Homo sapiens: one gene and its partners. The protein of the gene in region 3 purifies or fractionates together with the protein of the main gene of each other region. This does not show direct contact. Each region holds a gene or a part of one and is shown on either strand. Other genes may lie near its edges.

Region 1 (3,500 bases), on a different chromosome or scaffold from region 3:
ATTTATTTTGGCATCATCTCTTTATTAGCATGCATTACAAAAAAACATATTTCTATGTGTTCACCTTAATGTAGCCTTGTGAGGTAGTTTAAAAAATTTTATACACATTTGTTTGTATAGAGGAATAAATTATGTTTCAAACACAATGCAACATCTTGAACACCGCCAAGTTGCTGGGATAATCCACGTTTATCACCTACTTCCTCAATTCTTTGTCCACTGAACTATGATGTCAGAAATCTAAGCTTGATTTGTTTTTAAGTGGATAATCCATTAACTGTTTCCATATGCCATAACTATTCAGTTGAGAAATAATTTATAAACCAATTTATGGGCCCTATCTGGCAAAAATGACACACCTGTTATAAAATATGATTACTTCAGAAAGCTAACAATTGTGGAACCACATTTTCATAATAAATTAGTCTAAGTGAATTAGACTATTCATATACTTTCAGAAAGCCCTTTAATCCCTATTAACAGTTTGTGAATAATGAAAGTAGTTAATATTAATTTTACTTGACAAATCCAACACCAATAACCTGTTAGTATACTCTAATCCATTTTCCAACAGCCTGTAAAAATTAACCAACAGATGCTTCCAATCTGGTAAAAAAAAAAAAAAAAATACATAGGTCATTAGCATTATTTTGATGATACCAAATGTTCAATATATGAATATTATGATTAAATTTCAGAGAGATAGATAAACAATCTTTTTTTATAACCTTGTTAAGTCTTAACAGAAGCTGAATTTAGTAAAATGTCAGTCTTTTCTAAAATCAAAATCAGCATTTGTTATTCCACTCCTTGTTATTATGCTTCAACTAAGTACTTGACTGAGTTTCATCAGGAATGTAAAAGCAACATGAGTATGGGAAGCACACCTGCCTTATTCATGCTGGTATCCCCAATGTCAAGCATGAGGCACAACATGCAATATGCACCCAATAAATAGTTATTGAGTGGAACAGTGGTAGCCAATAAGAAAAAGTGGAAGGTATGAAAGAGGAGGTATGAGAAAAAGAAAAAACATAATCTGGAAAAGTGCTTATATACATTTCCAGAATAATTTAAAATACAGAAAGCTAAGATGTCTCCCAAAAACTTACAACAGAGAGAATCAAGAAAACTGAAGTGAGCTACTTAACAGCAAAATAAAGTGTAAAAGAAAATGATGTAAGTGAATCAGGAAAAAATTACTGATTTTTCACAGGAAAAGGATTAGAGAGGATTCCTATTCCTCTACAGATATGGCACAAGGTACTTTCCCACAGAAGCGTTGTTGTAAATGGTCACAAAGATTAGTTTAAAAAGCAGAATAGGTAAGATCTAATTGGAAAAAAAAAAGTAGGAATGTAATAAAAGGCAACAGGAATTAAGAGGAAAGAGCCAAGCCCTTACCAAGAATATCTTGGTAATATGTAAATGTAGGTAGGGTTGGATAGTATCACAAGAAGCCAGAATTGTTTTGCCATCAGGAGACCAGGAGAAAAGATCTCAGCTGAGATACACTAAAGATTAAACAAGATAATATGAAGAGAACCCAGCTGAGGCACTGATATATCACGTATGCACAATATCTGATATAGATATTAGCTCCTTTTCCAACTCTAAGTGTATTAGACCTGTAAATCCCAGTAGTCTAAACATTAGAAGTCCTGAAAACCTAAAGTAGTGTCTACCATAAGAAAAAAGCCCCACTTACTTGACAACAAATAAAGTCTACATGACAGAAAACTTCAAGGATCTCTTTAAATGATTGGATTCAGTTCCTTTGTTCTTACTACCCAATTTGAATGCTTGGGAAGCACAAAGGATTGGCATCTATCATTTAAATGCCTGGGATGGAATGTCCATCTTTGTAATCAAAGAAATAGCCTCGGTTCTCAGTCCAAACAGTTACTACTGCAATGAAAAACAGAGATACACCATTTCTCTAAAAAACCCACTATTCTTCAGTAATTACCATCCTTCCCTACCTAGTTGTGATGAAAATCAGCCAGCAGCCAATGCCTCTACCTCCTGCACTGGCTTGCGAAAGGGTGGAAAGACAAATGGATTTTCACCTTGGAGTGAACAATACATAAGTGACCAGGTTTACTTTTGTTTGGGGGTTTGCCTGTTTTTGTTTTTTTGTTTTTTTGTGTTTTTTTGAGACATAGTCTTACTCTGTTGCCCAGACTGGAGTGCAGTGGCGTGATCCTGGCTCGCTGCAACCTCTGCCTCCCAGGTTCAAGCGATTCTCATGCCTCAGCCTCCGGAGTAGCTGGGACTACAGGTGTGCACCACCATGCCTGGCTATTTTTTTTTTTAATTTTTTTTAGTAGAAATGAGGGTCTCATCATGTTGGCCAGGCTGGTCTCAAACTCCTGGCCTCAAGTGATCAACCCACCTCGACCTCCCAAAATGCTGAGATTACAGGCGGGAGCCATTGCACCCGGCCATAGTTTTGAATTCTGCAGCAATTACAAAATTGATTCAAACAAAGTATGTTGGACTCAGGGAGATACGTGAATGTAACATTTGGACCCAATGCCTCAGCAGCCAGGCCATGAATAAAAGACCACAAGTAGACCTGTCTACTTGACCAGTCCTGTCTAAGCTCTCTGGACATCTTTCTCTTTCCTTCCTTTCTGATCTTTCCTATTAAATGTCTATATAAAATCCTGTTTCTCTGAACGTAGCAATGACTGGCCTTTCCTATAAAATACTCTGAAGTGTTTTACATGTAAATACACATTTTAATTGTCATATATTCTCCTTGATTGCCAGATGACCAGTAATGCCAAAAAGCACTCTTAGGACTCCTCAAATAATGCTTTCTAGGAATTATTCTTTAAAATGAAGTCCCAAAAAAATAGTCACCTTTACAGCTCATCTCTGCTTACCACTGAGAAATGTTAGCAGGGCTCGGAGTCACAACCCTGGGCTTCCCCACTCTTTGTGTTCCCCCTGGAAATGTCATCTACTGTCACAGAAAAAAAAGAAAGCAGCATTTGAGTTGAATTGAGACAGAAGGTATCATAGTCCTCTGCCAGCCTCTAAGTCAAGTAAAGAGATTCCAGGCCAAAGGACCAGCAGTACAAAGGCAGAGAGAGATGGAAATATGGAGTATGCAAAAAATGATCACCTTTTCACCTTAATCTTTCTAACTAGTATTAGATAGAGCAAATACATCATTTTTTTATTCAACCTTGAATCTCAAGGCTAAAGTTAGATGACTTAAGAATTTTTTAAAGGTCCAATTATTTCATTTAGGGCTAACATTGCAGCTAAATTAAAGACATGCTAACAAGTTTCCCTTTTGAGCCTCATTAATTAAGAAAGTAATCAGAGTAAGGAGAAAAAGAGAGTAGCTGTATGGCAGAATTACTTAAATAGTTTTTAGGTACCACCATTTGTACCTACTAGGAAAGCAAAAGGAAAACTAATCAACTCCAGATTATGAAATCTGAAATTCTGAAGTGTTTTACATGTAAACACAAATTTTAACTGCC
Region 2 (3,500 bases), on a different chromosome or scaffold from region 3:
AGGGGAAACTCTTGAATCCTCTGTACTTGAGGTTCTTTTTGTTAACCCCAGAGAATCAAAGGTCTTATGTGTTCCGTAACCCTCTTTCTACCAAAATGTACAGCAAAAACTCTACCATTAGCCTTATAGGAATTACTTTTTTCAGAGTCATTCAGAACACTACGGTGCTAATGCCCCTTTGTGAATCACAGTAGATTTTGAAGGCTAAGTAGGAGGTGCTGAAAGTAAAGTACCCAAGAGATGGGTGATAGAAGCTGGTTTAGGTTAGTTTTATAGTAAGTAATTTGCCAGAGCTATGCAGCAGCTTTCTCTTTGATACCTCAGACTTTTCATAAAATCGCCAATTCCAGTGCCTTATTTTAAAGACACTGCCCCAGATCAGAGTTTTTGTTTTTGTTTTTTTTCAAGGAGAGATGGGTGGGAGGGGGGTTGGTTGGTTGTTTTGCCAGAATTTTATAATTAAACTATGTAAACCTTAGTAGGCCTGTAAGTTTATGAGGATATGTTTTTTTTTTTAAGTCATTTTCCACAGTAAATCAACTGTTACTGCTAGGAGGAAGTTACTTTTTAAAAAATATTTCCATAGATACTGTTAGACTAAAAGAAATAGGTAGATGCTTCAAATAGAATAATAAACTATTAAATTCAGAAAGCCACTATATATAAAAGGAAAAAGACATTGTACTTAAGTATGCAATTACTTTCTTTTTCCTGTTACAATGTTCTAGGCCAGCTGCTTTTCTGCTTACCATCATTTATGCTTATACTAAAGCATGTCTCATCTTTAAGACTAATTTTTATTTATTTGTTTCTGTAGCTGTTTCTGTACCAAATTCTACGTGGTTTGGCATATTGCCATAGAAGAAAGGTATTGCATCGAGACTTGAAACCACAGAACCTCCTCATTAATGAGAAAGGAGAATTAAAGCTAGCAGATTTTGGTATGGAATGTATGAGATATTTATTAGTACTTCCAGGTTCTAAAGTGTAATGGTTAAAAGATCAACCACTGTCATAATGTGCCATTGCTTTTATGTGGGTTTGGAAATTTTCTCGGTAGCCCACAGAATAAGATATTTGACAGAACTTTGGTTGGTGATTTATGTTGGTTATTAGCAGCAAATTCTAAAATGCACAGGCTGTTCTTGGGTGTGGACAAAGACCCCTAGGGCTCCTGAGACCCTTGTAGGAGGCCTCTAAATGTAAATATATTACCAAAATTGTACCATCTGTTATTTGCCTATTTCACTGTGTTAATATTTGCAATGATGGTCCCAAAATAATAATGCATAAAACTATACATCAAAGTAGTGGCACCAAAATATATCTTTTTTTTTTTTTTTTTTTTTTTTTTTGAAGACAGCATTTTGCTGTTAAAGCCCAGGCTGGAGTGCAGTGGTGTGATCTTGACTCACTGCAACCTCTGCCTCCCAGGTTCAAGTGACTCTCCTGCCTCAGCCTCCCAAGTAGCTGGGATTACAGGCATGCGCCACCATGCCTGGCTAATTTTGTATTTTTAGCGTGACCACCATGTTGGTCAGGCTGATCTCGAACTCCTGACCTCAGGTGGTCCACTCGCCTCGGCCTCCCAAAGTGCTGAGATTACAGGCATGAGCCACCATGCCCAGGCCGTCATTGTATTCTTTACCACTACACTTACGTAAAGGGAAAACTGTCAGTTACACTTACATGATGAAGCAATAAAATTTATTAATTATATTTAATTTCCATCCTTGACTACATTTCTTTTTAATATTTTATGTGATAAAATGGGAAGTGTACATAAAACTCATTTGCTGCACACAGAAATAATGTGGTTACTTCTCAGGGAAAAGTGCTCATGTGATTATTTGAGTGCACATTGAACTAGCCCTGTTATTTGAGGGGACACCATTTTTACTTAAATGACTGACAGACAAACTGTGGTTATTCAGACTTAGGTGTTTGGCAGACATTTTCCTGAAAGTGAATGAAGGAAGCCTATCATTTCAAGGAAAAGAACTGTCAGTATTTCTTGCCAATAATAAAATTCAAGTTTTCAAGCAAAAATTAGAGTTTGGAAATTTGGATCTGCTTTGAGTTTGATGGCTTTTCAATACTTAGAGACTTTTCTGATGAGATCGATGTTGATGTTAACAAACACGATTTTTCAATATGCTGAAAAAGTGTATAAACATTTGGAATGTATAACCCAGGGATCCACTGTTTTCCAAATGGCTAATGCATGATATTACAGAATCATGCATGGATAAAAGACCCATTTAAAGTACAAGGTCAATGAATTTTAGTGCAACAAAAGCATGAGAAGTTCATCGTTATAGGTTTTGTTAACACATAGCTTTTAAGAGACCACTTACTTTCTAGTTCTGATGTAGTGTCAAATAAGACTATTCACATTTATCAGAAAAGGCTATTAAAATGCCCCTCCTCTTTCAACCTCATATCTGTGTGAGATTTGATTTCCTTCATATATGTATGTTGTGATATGTATATTTGATCTATTTTGATACATATTGTGATATGTATCAAAGCAACATATCACGACACACAGAATGCAAAAACAGATGTGGAATCCAGTTGTCTTCTATTGAAATAGACTTTAGGCCAGACACAGTGGCTCAGGGGTGTAATCCCAGCACTTATGAGGCTGAGGTGAGAGGATCACTTGAAGCCGGGAGTTTAAGACCAGCCTGGGCAACATAGCAAGACCCCATCTCTACAAAAACAAGACTTAAAAGAGATTTACAAAAATGTGAAAGAAGGCCATTCTTCTTACTGTTTTGTTTTTATAAAAAAAATGTTTTTCATAAAAATGTCATACATGCTGCATATAAAGGGTGGTGTTTTTAAAGAGAAAATAATATTTTAAAATTTGCTAAGTTTTAATTTCTAATGTGGCAAATATCAGTAAATATATCCACAAAAATAAAAGCTCTTTAGGTCTTTGATAATTTTCAAGAGTATAAAATGGGTCTTGAGAACAATGAGTTTAGAAGCAACTACTGAAAGGCGTTCCCTTAATATACCTGCCACCATTACTCTGTATTTATTATATGCTCAGTAATTTAATTGTAGCTATTTATCTATTTTTTTTTTAGCTAATCTGGTTTTAAGGGAATTGAAAGTAAAATTAAATGCTCTTTTTGCTTCTAGAAAGTAAACTTTTTCATATTGAAGGAACTTTGTAGAGCAGCTTTGAATTTTTTGTATTCCGCATTCTGAGAGTTTGAATACTCTTAGAGAACTTAGTTTTTAAAAACCCATGCAGTTTTCCATAACTAAATTCATAATTTTTTTTCATAAATGATTATGGTAGTTTTTTGGTTGTTTGTTTTGAGACAGGGTCTTGCTCTGTCACCCTGGCTGAAGTCTAGTGGTGCAATCTCAGCTCACTACAACCTTCGCCTTCTGGGTTCAAGCGATTCTGGTGCCTCAGCCTCCCAAATAGCTGCAATTACAGGGGTGCCCACCACGCCCAGCTAATTTTTGTATTTTTAGTA
Region 3 (3,400 bases):
TGCCCATTAAAAACCAACCAAACAAAAAAATGCAAAGCCATTTACCCCATAATGTACCTGAAAAAATGCATGCCAAGCTTCACCTTGAACAGGATGCCACGGGCCCATTTTCTCCAGCTGTGACCCATGGGATGGCTCTCTCTGGTCTCAACAATGCATTTGAGAGAGGGACCCATTACAAGGGTTGCTCTGGGCCAGGCGTTCCTATGCAGGAATTAGAGAGCAGCTGACTAGCTTCTAGAAAGGAAAGTGTCATGGTTATCCTCCCATTTAAAATTTTCATAATAAACTTATTTGTATTCAAGAAGCTTAGGAATAGGTTTAGTGTTCACTGAGGCCAAGTTCTAGTTTTTTCCATTTGAGAAAATGGTAAAAAGGTCTTGCCCAAGCCATAATGGCAGTAATTTACATGCTATTCATAACAGCTCAAAAAGAAATTAGTCAAAGCAAGCTTTCACTGATTTCTTAAGTACAGAATACACAAATAAATACACATGGGATACCTTAAGAAAAACCAATCGCTTTATTTTTCCTCAATATATGTTTAGAAAACTGGTCTGAGAAGAGGTTTCATGAGATAGACCAGAGGACTATGTACAAAATCAAGAGTTCTAAACCAATAAGAAAAAGGGCACAATGAAGCACACATCCCCAGGGGCCACGGCAGCCTAGGACCTTCCTATCAGTGGGGAGGCAAGGTCTTTGACGGCTTTTGAGTTCAGCTGAGGGATCATGCTGATCTTCAGGAGTTTGCTGCTTGCATACTTATTCTTGATGGCCTGCAGAAGTCATTTGTGATTAAGCACATGTCAGGAACCCCCAATGATACCTTATTCCTAGTCTAACTCACAATTATCAAAGGTCCACGGCTACAATCATGATCACATTGATGATGCCCAATCGCTGAAGCCAGTGAAAGCTCTGGGCTCATAACATGTGCCTGACCATTTCCTTCCATCCCCATTAATGAATAAAACACAGCTGGTAGCACAGGTGATAGGAACAAATGATTTCAAGGTCCAAGTAGCAGGCTTCCTCTTGTAGGCTACCAGAGGGATGGGAGGGGGAGCTGTGTTTACGACACCTAAGTGCCATCAGGACATAACAGGTTCACCAGGCCTGGCAGCAATAGGAACAATTAAAAGACAATAAAAGACAATAAAAGAGGGTGGCAACTAGTGCTTAACAAATCCCAGACAGTCCTCTCAGGACTGAACACATATTACACTTCCATGAAGCAAATCATGTTGTGAGGACACTTGAGACTCTTCTGAGGTTCAAATACCTTGCTCTTTGCCACCACACACTTGGTGAGCTCTGATGTTTGGTGTCACACAAGCACAGGACAGCACTAAGTCTCCTTTGGCTCCTCCTCATAGGTGGGCCATGCAGAGATAGACACCATGCCCTCAGGATGCCCCCTGAATGGGCCTCTTCCCTCTTAACCATGCTTGCTAATTAGGCGTTTTTCCATCATTGCCTCAAAAGACCCTGGACAAAGGCTCTGAGTAACATCACCTGAATACGCAATATAATACACCGCCATTTGAAGTGGGCCCTCTCTCTTCCCAATCACATGCAGACCAGCCTTCCCTGCTTGCAAAGTGCCCTCCCCAGGATGCTAGTATAAGCACAGAGTAATTCAATACATTGAGTAACCGACTGGTTGACTGGGATCTGGGCCTGGACATGGCTAGCCTATCGACCTTGTTTCAAATAAAGCTTGCTTTCAGGGTTTATCAGTATGCTCCATACCATACTGTACCAGAAAAATATAAAGGATAAAGGATTTGTGCTAAAACTCCCACATGTTATTAATATATTTACATGACGGCACACACCGCCCCCCCCCGCCCAACATACACACAAAACCCAGAACCTAAAGCTTTCCACAGCTTAAGAAAACAGTAGTACTTACGATGAATTTAGTTAAGTTTTCATTTACTTTCACCACATTCTTGGCCATGTGCTGCATGACTTCCAATACTTCATTCTCTGTGTATCCTGTGTAATACTGCTGCTTTAAGTTCTGAAACACAAGAAGCAGACAGACAGACATGACTGAGGGGCAAGAGAAAACCTCTGCTTCTTTAGAAGAACACATCTTGTACATGATGACATTACTTATGTAAAAGCTGTACAAGAATATTCTTACCTTCTGGAAATTCAATCAAAGCCCTAACCACTCTCACAGTACCAGCAACACTAAAGCAGCTGGTAAATGCAAGATGATTCTGGCCCTGAGACCAGACTAAATCAAGTGCCAAAGGTCCCATACGATCTTTCAAAGACGTTGCACAGGTAAGAGTCCTTCAAGTAACAACACTGAAAGGGGATGGAAAAGGAGACACTTAAAACAAAGTGCCCCTTTACAGTGCTGGCCACATCTCACACAACCCTGCATCAAAGCCCTGCCCAGCTGTCCCTGTTATGAGCTCAAGAGCCCAAACAGACATACTGTCAGTCAGGGAAAGATGTTCGGAAATAAGAAATAAACTGTGCTACAAGCAACAATCTATCAAATCCAGAAGAACTAGGACTACCTATGATTCTCTTGTTGAACCCTGTGTAGTTAAGCACCAAACAGCAGAGAGAACTTAGACACTACCACACCAAGCCTTGTGACCTAGCCTCCCAAAGAGTAAAATTCAAGTAAAAGAACAGCTGTCAATTGATAATAAGATGTATCATGTAAGAAGATATATAAATTGGCGGGGCACAGTGGCTCACGCCTATAATCCCAGCACTTTCGGAGGCCAAGGCAAGAAGATCGCTTGAGCTTAAGAGTTTCAGACCAGCTTGGGTAACATTGGGAGACCCTATCTCTATGAAAAATGAAAAATTAGCCAAGCTTGGTGGTGTACACCTATAGTCCCAGTTACTTGAGGAGCTGAGGAGGAAGGATTGCTTGAGCCCAGAAGTTTGAGGTAATGAGCGATATTAACGCCATTGCACTCCAGCCTGGGCAACACAGTGAGACCCTGTCTCAAAAAAAAAAGAAAAAAAAAGAAAAAAAAAAAAGGCCAGGCGCAGTGGCTCACGCCTGTAATCCCAACACTTTGGGAGGCCGAGGTGGGCGGATCACCTGAGGTCAGGAGTTCGAGACCAGCCTGACCAACATGGTGAAACCCCATCTCTACTAAAAATACATAAATTCCCCGGGCATGGTGGTGTGCGCCTGAGGCAGGAGAATCGCTGGAACCCGGGAGGCAGAGGCTGCAGTGAGCTGAGATCGCACCACTGCACTCCAGTCTGGGTGACAGAGAAAGACTCTGTCTCAAAAAAAAAAAAAAAAAAAAAAAAAGATATGTCAACTGACTTTATTTAAGAGTTCTGTGACAAAAATTCTAAAAGCGAAAGTACGTTTTTTTCATATGCATGGTATAATTGGCAAAATAAA
Region 4 (4,300 bases), on a different chromosome or scaffold from region 3:
TGGCCCGTGTCCAGGACCGAAAGGCAATGAGAGAGGAAGCCCAACAGGAACTCCACCTCCTTCCCTGTGGCAGAGAGCAGCGGGTGGGTGGGGGGTGGTTCTTTGGAACTCAGGGGCACAGTGGTGAGCTTAGGAGCCAAGAGGCTGCGGCACACACAATACAGGCTCCCTTGAACAGGGAGCAGGAAGGAGCATGCCAAGGAGGGGATCACCTGCCAGGACAGCCCTGACGCTGCCCAAGAGGCTGGTTGTCCACTGTCTAGTCTGCCTCGTTGCCCATAGAAGGCTCTCATCTTGCTGGGACAGATGAACCCAATACCTCCAAGGCCAGAGGCAAACATCCCAGTGCCTGCTGGGAAAGCCTCACCCTGGGAGGCAGACCAGCCTGGAGTGGCGTCCTGCTCACCTCTTCTTGTAGTCCTCCACCACTTCGCGCACGCTCCTCAGCTCCGAGTCCAGCCTCACCCTGTCCCCAGACAGCGTCTCCAGCTGCTTCCGCAGGTTGCTGATGTAGCCCTCAAGGATGGGCTCCAGGTTATTCTTGCAGTTGTTCAGGTCCAGCTGCTGTAGCAGCTCCCACTTGGTCTCCAGCACCTGGTTCTGCTGCTCCAGGAACCGCACCTGGAACCCATGCCACACATACTTAAGCAATGTGGAGAGGGGATGTGAGAATTCCCTTCCTGGACAGGAACTGTGTTTTCTTATGCTACATTAGCTTTAAAAATGAGCCTCAGCCCTTAAAAACTGCCACCCATGCCACTCACACCCCCACTCCTTACCTAGGGTCCTTTATCTGACTGAAGTTCTCACTCTGAGGCAGCCCTTAAGGTTGGGAGGGGCACCAATGTCTTCATTTCCCTCTCAAACTATCAAGATCTAGATCTCCTGTCTCCTCTGCACTTATCCAAACCTGCCTGGACCGATGTCCATGTTCAGTCCAGGCCACCTCTCCAAGGCAGCCCCTTAGACACAAGCTGGCCTGTGCTAGCCTTCACACTGTCAGGCCTTCTGCTCGGGGTCTGGTGGCCCGTGCTCTGCCTAGTCTCTCCCTCCTTGTGCGTGGGCTCTCCCAGCCCAGCCAGAGGCAGATGTTCAGCTTATCTGGGGTCTCCGGCCCTCCTAAGTTGCTTTCATGTCTGAATCTCTACTATCTCAATCACAGCATTGTCCCAGCAGCAGAACAAGCATTCTCAAGTTGCAACCTACAAATATATCATTCCCTTGCTTAAAACCCTCAGGTGGTTCCACATCACCCTCAGGGTCAAGTCCATATTCCTTATCACACTCTTCATAATGTGCCCAGCCCTCCTGGCTTCCTTCTTTACTCATACAGTGATGTCGTAAACCGAAGGTCTCCCATTCCCCAGACAAGTTCTACCATGCTGCACGTGCTGTCTCCCTAGATTGCCTTTTCCCCACCTCCATCTGAAAACTCCTACTCATGCCTCACCACCCTACCTCACTGTCGCTCCGGGTGAGCTTCCCCTGCTCCTCTAAGCTTAGGAAGTCTCTGCTTCCCAATACCTTCCTACCACTTTGTTCCTCAGTGATTCTCAAACCTGAGTGTACATCAGCATCACCTGGAGAGCTTGTTAAAATGCAGGGTGCTGGGCCCTGCTGCAGAGTCTCTGATTCAGTTGCTCTGGGGTGGAGCCTGAGAGTGTGCATTCTAACAAGCGTCCAGGTGACGTTGCTGCTGCTGGTTCCAGGGCCACCTTTGAGAACCACTGCTCTAGGGCACCGTGACCTCCAGCTGCCTTGCCTCATAGGCTGTGTGTGTTACGGACTGAGTCTGAGCTTTCAGGGGACACAGGAGGAACAGCTGGGTCGCATGGCAGTCTAGATGCCCCAGGCTGTCAAGGGCATCTCCTTCGCCTAGCTTCTAAGTCTCACAGGCTGTCACTCTGCTACTTCTCAACTCAGAGACCGCTCTCATTGCTTCCTGGACACCTTCCTGGGCTAGGCTGCTGGCTCCTCTCACCCCTCCAACCCTGGTCCCTTGCCTCTGATGTCCAGGCTTTGTCCAGTTCCTCCCTGGGCTATGTCTGCATCCTGGGGAGGTGTCCTGCCTTCGTCTGCTTCAGACAGGGAGCACCCCAAGGACAATGAAGGCGGGGGAAGGAAGGGGCTCTACGGCATGAGCAAGCCTTATGGGCCCAGCACCTGGGGAGCTTTCAAGTTGTTTACCTGGTGTCTGATTTTGCTGGGAGAAAATGATTTCTTGCTCTCAGGCAAATTGAACCACAAATTAGGGCAGTGGCTCCCTCCTGAGTCCTTAAAAGGGGAGCCCAAGATCAGCTTTCTCCAGAAAGACCCACCTTGTCAATGAAGGAGGCGAACTTGTTGTTCAGCACCTTGATCTGCTCCCGCTCCTGGGCACGCACTTTCTGGATTTCAGGGTCCAGCTCCACGTTCAGGGGTGCCAGGAGGCTCTTGTTGATGGTGACCTGATGGATACCCCCGGGCGGGCACAACGACGGACACACGGACCCCAAGGCCACACTGCCAAACATGCTGCCAGCAAAGCCACTGGCCCGGCCCCGGCCAAATCCATAGCCTCCTGCCCACCCACTGCCACTGGCCACATTGAAAGAGATGCTCCGGGCACCCCCCAGGCTGTAAAGGCTCCGACTGCTGAAGCCTCCACTGAGCCCTTTGCCCCCTGCTCGGTAGGAGGATGAGCTGCCCCCTGAGAGCACAGCGGAGCAGCCGCTGAAGCCCCCCTTGGCAGCAGCTCCCGACTTGTAGGTGAATTGGCGGCTCATGGTGGGGAGGCCAGAAAGTGGGGATAAGATGCTGACCCTTAGCTGAGATGCAGTTCACCAGCCTGTGATCCTGGGCTCCCACTTTATAGGACTCAAGAGGGAGCCATGGGCCTAATTTGTGGGTTCAGTTTGCCTGGAAGCAAGAAATCATTTTCTCCCAGCAAAATCAGACACCAGGTAAATGACTTGAAAACTCCCAAAGTGCTAGTCTTGCAAGTCTTGCTCATGTAATTTGAGTTTTATCTAATGAACATGTGTAATTAGCATGGGCACATTATCCATAGAAAGATCTTAGGTGGGAGGTTTGTCGCAGTCTCAATTGCTGTTCCCCAGGGAGTGGTGGGGCCTGGGATTGTAGGGGTACAGAGGGGAGACCTTTAATTGACAGTGTCATCTGTTAGAAATCTCACAACCATGCCAGCATCAGATGGGCTGCTTCAGGGACCCTGGCTGAGCTGCTTTTATGTGGTTAAGAAGAGGCTGCTGCTGCCTGGCTTCCCAGAGTTCCTGGAGACAGGTTTGATGGCTGGCCAGGGCCATAGGAGAGGAGCACACTGGGAATCCAGGACCAGCCTCTGGCTGCCAGCCCCCTGCTGTGCCCTCCCAGGCAGCTCTCCTGCTCCTCTGTGCCAGCCGGGCTGCCCTGCTCACCTTCCTTTGCACACACTGACTTCTTTTTCCCTTTACCATCCCACTACCCTGACTCTTGACCTTGAAATTATGGTCATTGCACCATTCACGATGGCTGACACTGGTGCAGCACTTTACAGTGTAACAGAGCTCCTCACACAAGAAGCTCATTTAATCCACTTAGTCTGCATGGAGGGGAATGGTGATGATCCACATTACACAAATGGGGAAACCAAGGTTCAGATAATTGAGGATGTCATTCCTTTAGCAAACATTTAGTGAGTCCTTTCTTTGTGTGAATCCCAGAGAATGAAAATGCCCCCAAAAAGCACAGGCCCCAGCCTTGAGGACTCCCTTGGCTGGTCTTCTGACTCCACATTCAGAGCTATGCCCGCCTTATTCATTCGTCCATCTATCCGTCCAACCAGCCAGCCAGCCATCTACTTGTTCATTCATTTATCCATTCGTTTAACAGACTTCTCTTGAGGGCTGACTCTCTCCCAGGTACTGTGCTAGGCTCTTGGGTCCCGAATTATGAAGACCAAACCTAGCTCACAATTTTGGAGATGGGGAGGTAGGGGAAGACATTTGAATTTCATGGATCCTTGACATTGCCAAAGTATGTGACCCAAGAGTTTCCCAAATCCCAAATCCCAAATATATCCATAGTATAGAATTTCCTCCATAAAAACACAAGTATTTCACTAGCTGGAGTACTTGAATGAACAGTTGGCCCATCCTTCTTTTCTATTTCTGTATAGAGGTTATGATATGCCTCTAAAATTGTTGTACTAAGCAATTGCCAAATTCAACCTCCCCTCTGTTTTATACAATATGGTTGTTTTCTAGTTAAGAATAATCATTTTCTTTGATGTCTTCAATTTCACTAAAGGCAATGCCACTTG
Region 5 (3,500 bases), on a different chromosome or scaffold from region 3:
GATATTTTTCAGTAAACATTGTCGTGCGTGTGCTCTTCTCTCCTTCACAGGATCTTTGGCACACAAGGCAAAGATCGCCATATACTCCAATGGGAGCAGTAACTTCACAAGTGCCTTATGCAGCTTCTGAGCAAATATCTGCCTTACTTGGTAACACTCATCCTACAGCAGCACAGAAAAACTTAAATTGGCAACCATTTATTAAATAAAAAACAGCAGTTTAAGTATTTTTAGTGTCTTCAATTAAAAAGAAGATAATTATATGGGAGAATAAATAATGTAATAATTGGAAGACAGTTAAACAGGTAATAATAGTAGTGACTTTTGTGCATATATTCACATTATAAATGGATTTGTATCCATAGAAAAGTAATGTATTCAACTTTGAAGATAAGTAATTGACAAAAATAAGATTGTTACTTACATTAATAACAAGTGCACAGAGCTGAAACTGTTCTGGGGTAATAATTTCATGGTAACAAGGTTCCTGAGCAAGCTTCATTATGGCACTACCAGCAGCTAATCGCAAGCGAGACATATCAGATTTACTATAAACAAACAAAAAAGAAATAAACATTTCCTATAACCACTATCATTCATAAAAATGCTTTCGTCCCTTTTTGAATGTAAGGTCCTTAGAGCATAATTTATGTTTAAAATGACGTACAAATATGGGAAAGCTACTTTGAGTCCATGAACTTAACACAGGGGATTGTGACTTTCACAATCAAATCAAATCATTGTGACTTTCTGATTACAAATTTACCTGCCTTCATTTCTAGTCAAACTCTAGCTTAGATACTTCACCACAACCCAAAAACTCTGCTTATTCTTGCAACCATAGTAATTGCAAGGCTAGGAAAAACTCTTTACATCAGGAGCTGTATCCCTCATTTTAAGAGAAATACATATTGATTGTAGAAAACTTGATTAAAGTGGCCAGGCATGGTGGCTCACACCTGTAATCCCAGCACATTGGGAGGCCGAGGTGGACGGATCACGAGGTCAAGAGATTGAGACCATCCTGGCCAACATGGTGAAACCCTGTTTCTACTAAAAATACAAAAAATTAGCTGGGTGTGGTGGCACGCACTTGTAGTCCCAGCTACTTGGGAGACTCAGGCAGGAGAACTGCTTGAACCTGAGAGGTGGAGGTTGCAGTGAGCCAAGGTCGCACCACTGCACTCTACCCTGGCAACAGAGTAAGACTCTGTCTCAAAAAAAACAAAAAACAAAAAACAAAAAACAAAAAAACTTGATTAAAAAAACCACAAAGAATTAAAAAAAAAATCACCTATCATCATTTAAAATCTATTTCCTGCATATAAACATGTAACAGGAATCTAGTTTAATGCCTGCTGAAATGGCAGGGCTGCAGTTAAGAGTGAAGAAGTATCAGACAAATACCTAAAGGATATGAAATATAAGAGGCCAGTGTCTGTCTTAGGTACTAGTTCCTGGGGCTGATCTCCTTTTGCAGAGTAAAGTTTTCAAATGGAACCTATGAAGCCTTGGCACTCCCACCCCGACACTGTGGATTTTTATTACTTACGTGGTAAAATGTGGTAATGAATGGGATGGCATGGGAGTCTTTCTACTTCGACTTCTATGTGGAACATAGCATGGCTTTTGTATTTATTGTGACCACTTTACGAAATGCAGAAAGCTAGCCGGAACCCACTGGGACTGTTGCTAAGCATAGAGAGAAGAAAACCTGGCACTCTTGGACAACAGGATTGTTAAAATGAGCACTGGTAACAATGAGGGAGCCTCAAATGGTTTCTATGGCATTCATTCAGGAATCAAAGTTAATAGCTATTATGTGAGTGCTTACTCCGTGCCAGGCAGGTGTGAAAAACACTTTATAGGCTTTATCTCAATTAATTTTCACTCCATAAGATGAGGAAATTGAGGCTTACAAAAGGTAATACTATATTATATGATATCCAGTTAGGATCTGTCCAATGGGTGTTCATTCTATGGTTAACCATTCCCCTATTTTTTGTGATGGAAAATAATGCTGGAGGAACATGCTTGTGTATAAGCTTTCATATGATTCTTTTATACTCATGAATTATGAGTGTAAAAATAAAGAGTCAAGGATAACATTTTTGAGGATCTAGATGCAAAATGCCAAAGAGTCCTGCTAATTTATACTCATAGGAGTAATGAAGGAACCCATTTCCATGATCATACTGAGGAATGATTGCTTATAACGTTTTTTTTTCTTTCTGATTTGTAATGAAAAGAGGTATTGATTAAGTTTAAATTGTATTGACTGCATTTAGTGATGTTAAACTTTTAAAAGTAAACTGATAATAGCTAAACTTCATCTCCACTGGGGGTCCTGCCTAGGTATCACTGACTTGTAAGAGCTCATTATTATGCCTTTGCCATGTACTGTACATAATTACCCCCAATTTAAAGCTTTCATTATCCCTAACTCAGCTCTAAACAGTGTTATAAAAGGCTGCCTTTGGCTTATTCTATGATAAAAATAGAGCGTAGTGGTGCACACCTATAGTCCCACTACTCAGGAGGCTGAGGCAGGAGGATTGCTTGAGCCCAGCTAGCCTGGGCAACATAGTGAGATCCCATTCCTAATCACAATAATTTTTAAAAAAATTAATAGCATAGCAGTACCACATAACTAGCCAAAGCTGGAGTACAATGGCGTGATCTTGGCACACTGCAACCTCCACCTCCTGGGTTCAAGTGATTTTCATGCCTTAGCCTCCCCAGTAGCTGGGATTATAGGCACGTACCACCACACCTGGCTAAATTTCTATATTTTTAGTAGAGACAGGGTTTCAACATGACCTCAATTGATCTGCCTGACTTGGCCTACCAAAGTGCTGGGATTACAGGCGTAAGCCACTGCACTCAGCCTCATAAAGAATGATTAAACCTCTGTCCTCTAAAACAAATTTTTAAAAAGGAATGCATCATATGTAGAATACTTTAGTTATCTATGTTGGTAATCTTGGCCCCTACTAAATCAAGAATTTGACAGAAACCAGGATCATGAAAAACTGAGCTTCTATTTTCATCTTAAAATGAGATGGCAATTTTAGAGATTAAAAGTGAAAATGTGTAACAATGTAAACAATCTCTGTGTGCACATACAAGTGTACACACCCAAATCTGTAGAACAACAAGAAGGCTTCAACTCTCCCTTGAGTTGCCATTGCAATTTTTATTTTTATTTATTTATTTATTTTGAGACAGGCTCTCGCTCTGTTGCCCAGGCTGGAGTGCGGTGGCACGATCTCAGCTCACTGCAACCTCTGCCTTCTGGTTTCAAGCGATTCTCCTGCCTCAGCCTCCTGAGTAGCTGGGATTACAGGCATGTGCCACCATGCCTGGCTAATTTTTGTTTTTTGTTTTAGTAGAGACGGGGTTTCACCATATTGGCCAGGCTGGTCTTGAACTCCTGACCTCGTGATCTGCCCGTCTCGGCCTCCCAAAATGCTGGGATTACAGGCATAGGCCACCGCGCC
Region 6 (3,500 bases), on a different chromosome or scaffold from region 3:
TAGAAGTTTGTCAGTTTTACTGATTTTTTTTTCAGAAAAGCAAATTTTTGTGTTATTAATTTTTCCCTATAGTTTTTCTATTTCAAATTCATTGATTTCAGCTCTTTATTATTCCCTTCCTTCTGCTTGCTTTGGGTTTATTTTGGTCTTCTTTTCTAGATCCTTGATGTAGAAATTTAGGTTATTGACTTAAGACCTTCCTTTATTTCCAATGTAAACATTTAGTGTTAGAAATTTCTCTCTCAGAATTGCTTTATCTACATGGTACATATTTCAATATGTTGTGTTTTCATTTGCATTCAGTTCTACGCATTTTTAAAAAAATTCCTTTTGAGATTTCCTCTTTGATCCACGGATTATTTAGAACAGTGTTGTTTAATTTCCACGTGTTTAGATACTTTTCTGCTACAGATTTCTAGTTTCATTGCATTGTAGTCAGAGAATATACTCTGTATGATTTCAATTATTTTAAATTTGTTTAGGTTTGTTTTACGGCCAAGCACATTATCTATCTTGGTGAATGTTCTGTAGGTGCCAAAAAAAAGTGTGTTCTGCTGTTGTTGGGTGGAGTTTTCTATACAAAGAGATATAATTTAAAACCACTATGGAAAAACCAATATAAAATCGTAAAAATATTCAACTGGATCCTGTTAATTGACTGTCTTTTTCAGATCTTCCCTATATTTACTGATGTTCTGTCTAGTAGATTTATCAATTTCTGAGAGGGGGTATTGAATTTCCCAACTATAATTGTGGATTTGTCTCTTTCTTCTTTTAGCTTGATCAGTTTTTGTTCATGAATTTTGAGACATAGTTGTTTGGTGTGTACCCATTAAGGATCATTGTATCCTCCTGCTGGATTGATCCATTTATCATTAGGTAATGTCTCTGTTTATCTCTTTTAACTTTCTTTGCTCTGAAGACTATTTTATCAGATATTAATGAAGCTTCTCCAGATTTTTGAAAAATTAATACTTATGTGGTACATCTTTTTCTATATTTTTACTTGCAATCTTCCTATGTCATCAAATTTAATGTGAGTTTCTTGTGAATAGCATATAGAGTAGTTCCCCCTTATTCCAGGGAGATATATTCCAAGACCCCCAGTGGATGCCTGAAACCATGGATAGTACTGAACTCTATGTATACTATATATATTTTTCCCCCATACACACAAACCTATGATAAAGTTTAATTTATAAATTAGGCACAGTAAGAGATTAACAATGATAACTACTAATAAATAGAACAATTATACCAATGTACTGGAGTAAAAATTATGTGATTGTGTTCACACACTCACACTCTTTCTCACAAAATATCTTATTATACTGTACTATGGGTAACTGAAACCTCAGAAAGTAAAACCACAGATAAAAGGGGACTACTGTAGTGGTATTCGCATTCAATATAATTATTTAATGTAATTATTGATATATTATTCTTGTTTGCTATTTTATTATTTGTTTTTTGTTTGTTCCCTTTAGTTCTTATTCTTCTGTTTCCCTTTTCTTGCTTTTCTGATAGTTACTTGAGCATTTTTTATGATTCCATCTTGACTTATTCATAGTGTTTTAAAATATATATCTTTGTAGAGTTTTCCCAGTGGTTTCTCTGGGTATTCAACATTCATGTGTGAGTCATAACAGTCTACTCATATCAATATTTTACCACTTTGATTGAAGTGTATAAACCTCACTTCCATTTAGTTTCCTTTACCTTCCCCACTTTTAAATATCATTGTCTAGAGTATAAAATGGTGTTATAATTTTGCTTCAATTATCAAATATGATTTATAGAACTCATGAGTTAAAAGATAGTCTACTTTATGTACTTACATTTCTGCTCTTTCTGTTGTCCTTTCATCCTTCCTGATTGCTCTTTATCATTTATTCTCTGTTTGAAGAAATCCCTTTAGCTATTTTTTAACAGTATGTCTGCTAGCAACAAATCTTTTTGTTTTCCTTCAACTGAGAATTTAATTATTTCCCCTTAATTCCTGAAGGATAGTTTCACCAGATATGGATTCTATTTTCTGTCATCTCTGCTCTTCTATTGAGTCCATCAGCCAGTTTTTCATTTTTGTTATTTTATTTTACAGTTCTATAATTTATATTTGTTTTTTGGGGGGAGGGGACAAACAAGCCAGTTTTATTCAAAAAATAATTCCAAGGGGGAAAAAAGAAAACTGAGAAAGAGCCTATAGATTGTAAGGGTCTTTAGAAAAATAGTAGATAATTGCAAAGTATGTATTTTTTAAATTCTTGTTTTTAACTTAATTTTTATTTTAATTAATTAACAAATAATTATTGCATATATTTATGGGATACAATGTGATATTTTAATATATGCATACACTGTGGAATAATTACATCGAGCTAATTAACATATCCATCACCTCACGTAATTTATCCTTTTTTTTGTTTTTTGTTCTGTTTTGTTTTGTTTTCAGACAGGGTCTCACTCTGTCACCCAGGTTGGAGTGCAGTAGTGTGATCTCGGCTCACGGCAACCTCTGCCTCCCAGGCTTAAGCAATTCTCCCATCTCAGCATCCCGAGTAGCTAGGACCACAGGCACATGCCACCATGCCCAGCTAATTTTGTGTGTGTGTGTGTGTGTGTATTTTTGGTAGAAATAGGGTTTCACCACGTGGCCCAGGCTCTTCTCGAAATCCTGAGCTCAAGTGATCCACCTTCCTTGGCCTCCCAAAGTGGCGGGATTACAGGCATGAGCCACCACATCTGGCCTACCTATCTTTTGTTTCGTTTTGTTTTTTTCATAGCAGGAACATTTAAAATCTATTATTTTTTTGAATACTTTTTTGGGGAACAGGTGATGTTTGGTTACGTGGATAAGTTCATTAGTGGTGATTTCTGAGATTTTGGTGCCCCCATTACCCGAACAGTGTACACTGTACCCAATGTGTAGACTAAAATCTTATGCTTTTAGCAGTTTTGAAATGCACATACATTATTATCAACTATGGTGAGCATGCTGCAAAATAGGTCTTAAAAACTTATTCCTCTTGTCTAACTGGAACTTTGTACCCTTTGGTCAACTTCTCCCCATTTCCCACTCCCTCCAAGCCACAGTCCCTGGTAACCATTCTACTCTAATTCTGAGTTCAACTCTTTTAGATCTCACATATAAGTGAGATTATGTGGTGTTTGTCTTTCTGTGTCTGGCTTGCTTCACTTAGCATAATGTCCCCCAGGTTCATTCATGCTGTAGCAAATGACAGAATTTCCTTCTTTCTTATATTTTTATAACTTCTTTTTCTTTTCTGCAAGTTTCCTTTTTTTTCTTTATTTGTTTTAAGATAATGTTAATTGATTGTTGAGGCATTTTTATGATGGCTACTTTGAAATCCTTGTCAGATAATTCCAACATCGAACTCATCTTAATGTTGGCAGTAGTTGCCTTTTCTCAGTCAAGTTGTGATTTACTTGATTCTTGGTATGACAGATGATTTTTGATTGAACATTTTGTCTACTATGTT
Region 7 (3,500 bases), on a different chromosome or scaffold from region 3:
GGGTAGCAGGTCTTTGGGCAGTTAGCCTGTAGCTGTGCTTTAAAACCTCAGGAATTTACAACTATAAACTGGGATTTTGGCAACCCTTGACTTATCTTTCGTTTATCTGTTTTCTGACATGACATACTTCTTCACTAAATACATAGCTTTCACATAAATCATTTTGAAATTGCAAGTGATTAACTTACAGGTTTTTTGGGGGGTAACTTAAATTAGAAATTTTTGAAAATAGTTAAGCCTTCTTAGGTTTGTTTTGACACAGAAAAAGATTAATTACTAATTTGTTGGGGTGGACTCTTTACTAAAGCATAATTTAAAATTGCTCCTTTAGAAACCTTAATTTCCTCAAGAAGGCTTGATTTGATAAATTATTGCTACCAAAAATGTTCTTTGATTTTTTTTTACAGATTTCAGAAATATGGAGATGAAAATGTTCTTTTTTTTTTTTTTTTTTTTTTTTTTTTTGAGACGGAGTCTTGCTCTGTCACCCAGGCTGGAGTGCAGTGGCATGATCTCGGTTCACTGCAGCCTCTGCCTCCCAGGTTCAAGCAATTTTCATGCCTCAGCCACCCGGGTAGGTGAGATTATAGGTGTGTACCACCGCAGACGGGGTTTTGCCATGTTGGCCAGGCTGGTCTCGAACTTCAGACCTCAAGTGATCTGCCCACCTCGTATTCCCAGAGTGCGGGGATTACAGGCATGAGCCCCTGCGCCCGGCCTAAAAATGTTCTTTTTTTTTTTTTGAAATGGAATTTTACTCTTGTCACTCAGGCTGGGGTGCAATGGCACTATCTTGGCTCACTGCAACCTCCCCCTCCCAGATTCAAGCGATTCTCCTGTCTCAGCCTGCCAGGTAGCTGGGACTACAGGTGCCCGCCACCACACCCGGCTAATTTTTGTATTTTTGGTAGAGACGGGGTTTTACCATGTTGGCCAGTCTGGTCTCAAACTCTTGACCTCAGGTGATTCACCCGCCTCAGCCTCCCAAAGTGCTGGGATTACAAGCTTGAGCCACCGCACCCGGCTTGTTCTTTCTTAATATTGATTAGTCTTAATTCAGAGATAGAATTTTAGTTTTAAATGTAATTACAGTATTAGAATTTAGTGTTTTTCTGATTACTTTTATAACTATGTCAGAAAATGTGACATTTGATTATTTACTTGAGTGAATTGAATAGATACTTGTGGAATCTTAATGTGATGACTCATGTTCAATTCCACAAAATTATGTATGGTTATACAATGGAATATACACTTTTTCTATCCTGTATTAGGATAATCACTATTACCAGAAACAAAATCTTAGTTGAAAGAGAGAGCTTCTCTTGGTCAAAGAAAAAATACATAACTACAGTGTATTTTAATTAAATCAGTATTTTTTTTTGCATTTAGGCATAAATGTGAAGTACTTCTTGAAACAAAATAATAAACTATTTACAAGTTAAAAACATAAAGGTGTTATTTTATGCAGTTAACTCAGACCTTCCCCTTCACAATAAAGGACAGCGTTTTTGTTTGTTCAAGTCTAAAAGTAGTGTCTTTATAACAAGATAGATTTTAAAAGGAAAAGAACCCTTTCTACCTGTGCTATTTAATTAATCTCTGGTAAATTGTGTATGTATAATAACTTCCGTCACTTATTCCAACATTTTCTTTAAAACACCAGCAAACGTATTTGTGAATCTCTCTTATCCTTGAAACTTCTTATGCTGTTGATAAACTCAAGGGGCTATGATGAAACATTTTTTTCAATAGATTATTTTGTGAATAGGGACTTGGCTTGTTGTTTCTTTTTTTGGTGAATATTGGTTTAAAGCACATGTTTTAGTTATACCTGTTATGTAGTTGGCATTTATAAACTGAATTCTATAATGGTAACTCATACGGAGCCTGACTTTTTGAGACCATGAACATCCTAGAAAGAGATAAAATTCAGAGTAAAAAAAAAAGGCCAATCAACTTCTGGGAAAGAGAGAGATATTGGAGGTGGGGGATTGTCTCAGATCTCACAGAATTTTCTCCTTGGCCCATTGACTTAGACTTGTGTGTAAATTAAGACAGCTGATTTGATATTGCAGGAAAGAACAGAGAACAACAATGATGGCCAAAAGAAAAATCTCGGCCGAGCGCCGTGGCTTACGTGAGCCTGTAATCCCGGCACTTTGGGAGGCTGAGGCAGGAGGATCATTTGAGCTCAGGAGTTTGAGACCAGTATGGGCAACTTAGTGAGCCATCGTCTCTACTAAAATTAAAAAAAAAAAAAAAATTAGTTGCTGAGCTTGTTGGCACATGCCTATAGTCCCAGCTACTTTGTGTGTGTGTGTGTCGGGGGTAGGGGGTGTGCAGGGGGTGTGCTGAGGCAGGACAATCACTTAAGGCCGGGAGGTCAGGCTGCAGTGAGCCCTGATTATGCCACTGAACTCCAGCCTGGGCAACAGAGTGAGACCCTGTCTCAAAACAAAGAATAAAAGAAAAATTTTATCAAAAAATTGTTTTAGTCCATGTGTGGTGGCTTACACCTCTAATTCCAGCACTTTGAGAGGCTGAGGCAAGAGGATTCATTGAGCCCAGGAGTTTGAGACCAGCCTGGGCAACATGGAAAAACTCTGTCACTACAAAAAATACAAAAATTAGCCAGGTATGGTGGTGTGTGCCTGTAGTCCCAGCTACTAGGGAGGGTGAGGTGGGAGGATCACCTGAGCCCGGGGAGGTTGAGGTTGTAGCGAGCTATGATCACTCCACTGCACTCCAGCCTGGGTGACAGAGAGACCCTGTTTCAAAAAAAAAATTGTTTTTAAAAACCACAGTATTCTGGTTCTATATAGTTTAGATACAAGCAGCCTATAGCACAGCAGAGTTTACTCATTCAGCAAACATTTTGGGGACCCTAGTATGTGATAGACACTGTGCTCGTTATTCTGAAGGATATAAAGAAGAACGAGATGTGATACTGCCCCCAGGAGCTTATTGTCTAGCACGGGAGAAAAGGCACTTACACAGTTAAACACAACAAAGGCAGTTTTAGCACAATGGTTAAGCATTCATGAACCTAGATTCAAACCTAGCTGGGTGATCTTGGGCAGGTCTTTGAGCCTCAATATCCTTAACTTTCAAATGAACATTAATGGACATTAATAACAGTATCTACTATGCAGGCTTGTAATAAGCTTTAGATAAGAAAAAATACATATATAAAAGCCTTAGGGTAGGGTACCAGGCATTCATTAATAGCAAGAGCTCAGTAAGTAACAGATCTGAGTAGTAGTATCACCACTGCCAACACCATTATCATTGAATCTCTGGGAACATAACTTTTGTTTTCTCCTGCCCTCATGGATCCGTTTTGTCTAGGGTATCTGGTATATTATAATATCTCCTTGTATTAGTCTGTTTTCACGCTGCCGATAAAGACATACCTGAAACTGGGCAATTTATAAGAAAAAGAGGTTTAATGGACTTACAGTTCTACCTAGCTAGGGAGGCCTCACAATCATGGTGAA

What was found.
Region 1: the proteins of CCNB2 (region 3) and DIAPH3 fractionate together in Homo sapiens (co-fractionation; one large-scale study listed by BioGRID). This does not show direct contact.
Region 2: the proteins of CCNB2 (region 3) and CDK17 purify together in Homo sapiens (affinity purification with mass spectrometry; one large-scale study listed by BioGRID and IntAct). This does not show direct contact.
Region 4: the proteins of CCNB2 (region 3) and KRT73 purify together in Homo sapiens (affinity purification with mass spectrometry; one large-scale study listed by BioGRID and IntAct). This does not show direct contact.
Region 5: the proteins of CCNB2 (region 3) and PDS5A purify together in Homo sapiens (affinity purification with mass spectrometry; one large-scale study listed by BioGRID and IntAct). This does not show direct contact.
Region 6: the proteins of CCNB2 (region 3) and VSIG1 purify together in Homo sapiens (co-immunoprecipitation; one large-scale study listed by IntAct). This does not show direct contact.
Region 7: the proteins of CCNB2 (region 3) and SCML2 fractionate together in Homo sapiens (co-fractionation; one study listed by IntAct). This does not show direct contact.

The regions. Positions count from the first base shown.
Region 1 is NC_000013.11:59,964,929-59,968,428, forward strand, and holds part of DIAPH3 (protein diaphanous homolog 3), read right to left. Parts: intron 2,972-3,500; coding exon of another isoform or gene 2,904-2,971; exon of another isoform or gene 2,401-2,903; intron 607-2,400; coding exon of another isoform or gene 467-606; exon of another isoform or gene 1-466. UniProt on the Homo sapiens protein: Actin nucleation and elongation factor required for the assembly of F-actin structures, such as actin cables and stress fibers. Required for cytokinesis, stress fiber formation and transcriptional activation of the serum response factor.
Region 2 is NC_000012.12:96,292,440-96,295,939, reverse strand, and holds part of CDK17 (cyclin-dependent kinase 17), read left to right. Parts: intron 1-817; coding exon 818-941; intron 942-3,500. UniProt on the Homo sapiens protein: May play a role in terminally differentiated neurons. Has a Ser/Thr-phosphorylating activity for histone H1.
Region 3 is NC_000015.10:59,122,146-59,125,545, reverse strand, and holds the end of CCNB2 (G2/mitotic-specific cyclin-B2), read right to left. Parts: intron 2,030-3,400; coding exon 1,919-2,029; intron 780-1,918; coding exon 669-779; 3' UTR 501-668; downstream 1-500. UniProt on the Homo sapiens protein: Essential for the control of the cell cycle at the G2/M (mitosis) transition.
Region 4 is NC_000012.12:52,615,760-52,620,059, forward strand, and holds the start of KRT73 (keratin, type II cytoskeletal 73), read right to left. Parts: upstream 2,801-4,300; 5' UTR 2,766-2,800; coding exon 2,319-2,765; intron 622-2,318; coding exon 407-621; intron 1-406. UniProt on the Homo sapiens protein: Has a role in hair formation. Specific component of keratin intermediate filaments in the inner root sheath (IRS) of the hair follicle.
Region 5 is NC_000004.12:39,862,912-39,866,411, forward strand, and holds part of PDS5A (sister chromatid cohesion protein PDS5 homolog A), read right to left. Parts: intron 549-3,500; coding exon 425-548; intron 163-424; coding exon 1-162. UniProt on the Homo sapiens protein: Probable regulator of sister chromatid cohesion in mitosis which may stabilize cohesin complex association with chromatin. May couple sister chromatid cohesion during mitosis to DNA replication.
Region 6 is NC_000023.11:108,051,565-108,055,064, reverse strand, and holds part of VSIG1 (V-set and immunoglobulin domain-containing protein 1 isoform 2 precursor), read right to left. Parts: intron 1-3,500.
Region 7 is NC_000023.11:18,344,689-18,348,188, reverse strand, and holds part of SCML2 (sex comb on midleg-like protein 2), read left to right. Parts: intron 1-3,500. UniProt on the Homo sapiens protein: Putative Polycomb group (PcG) protein. PcG proteins act by forming multiprotein complexes, which are required to maintain the transcriptionally repressive state of homeotic genes throughout development.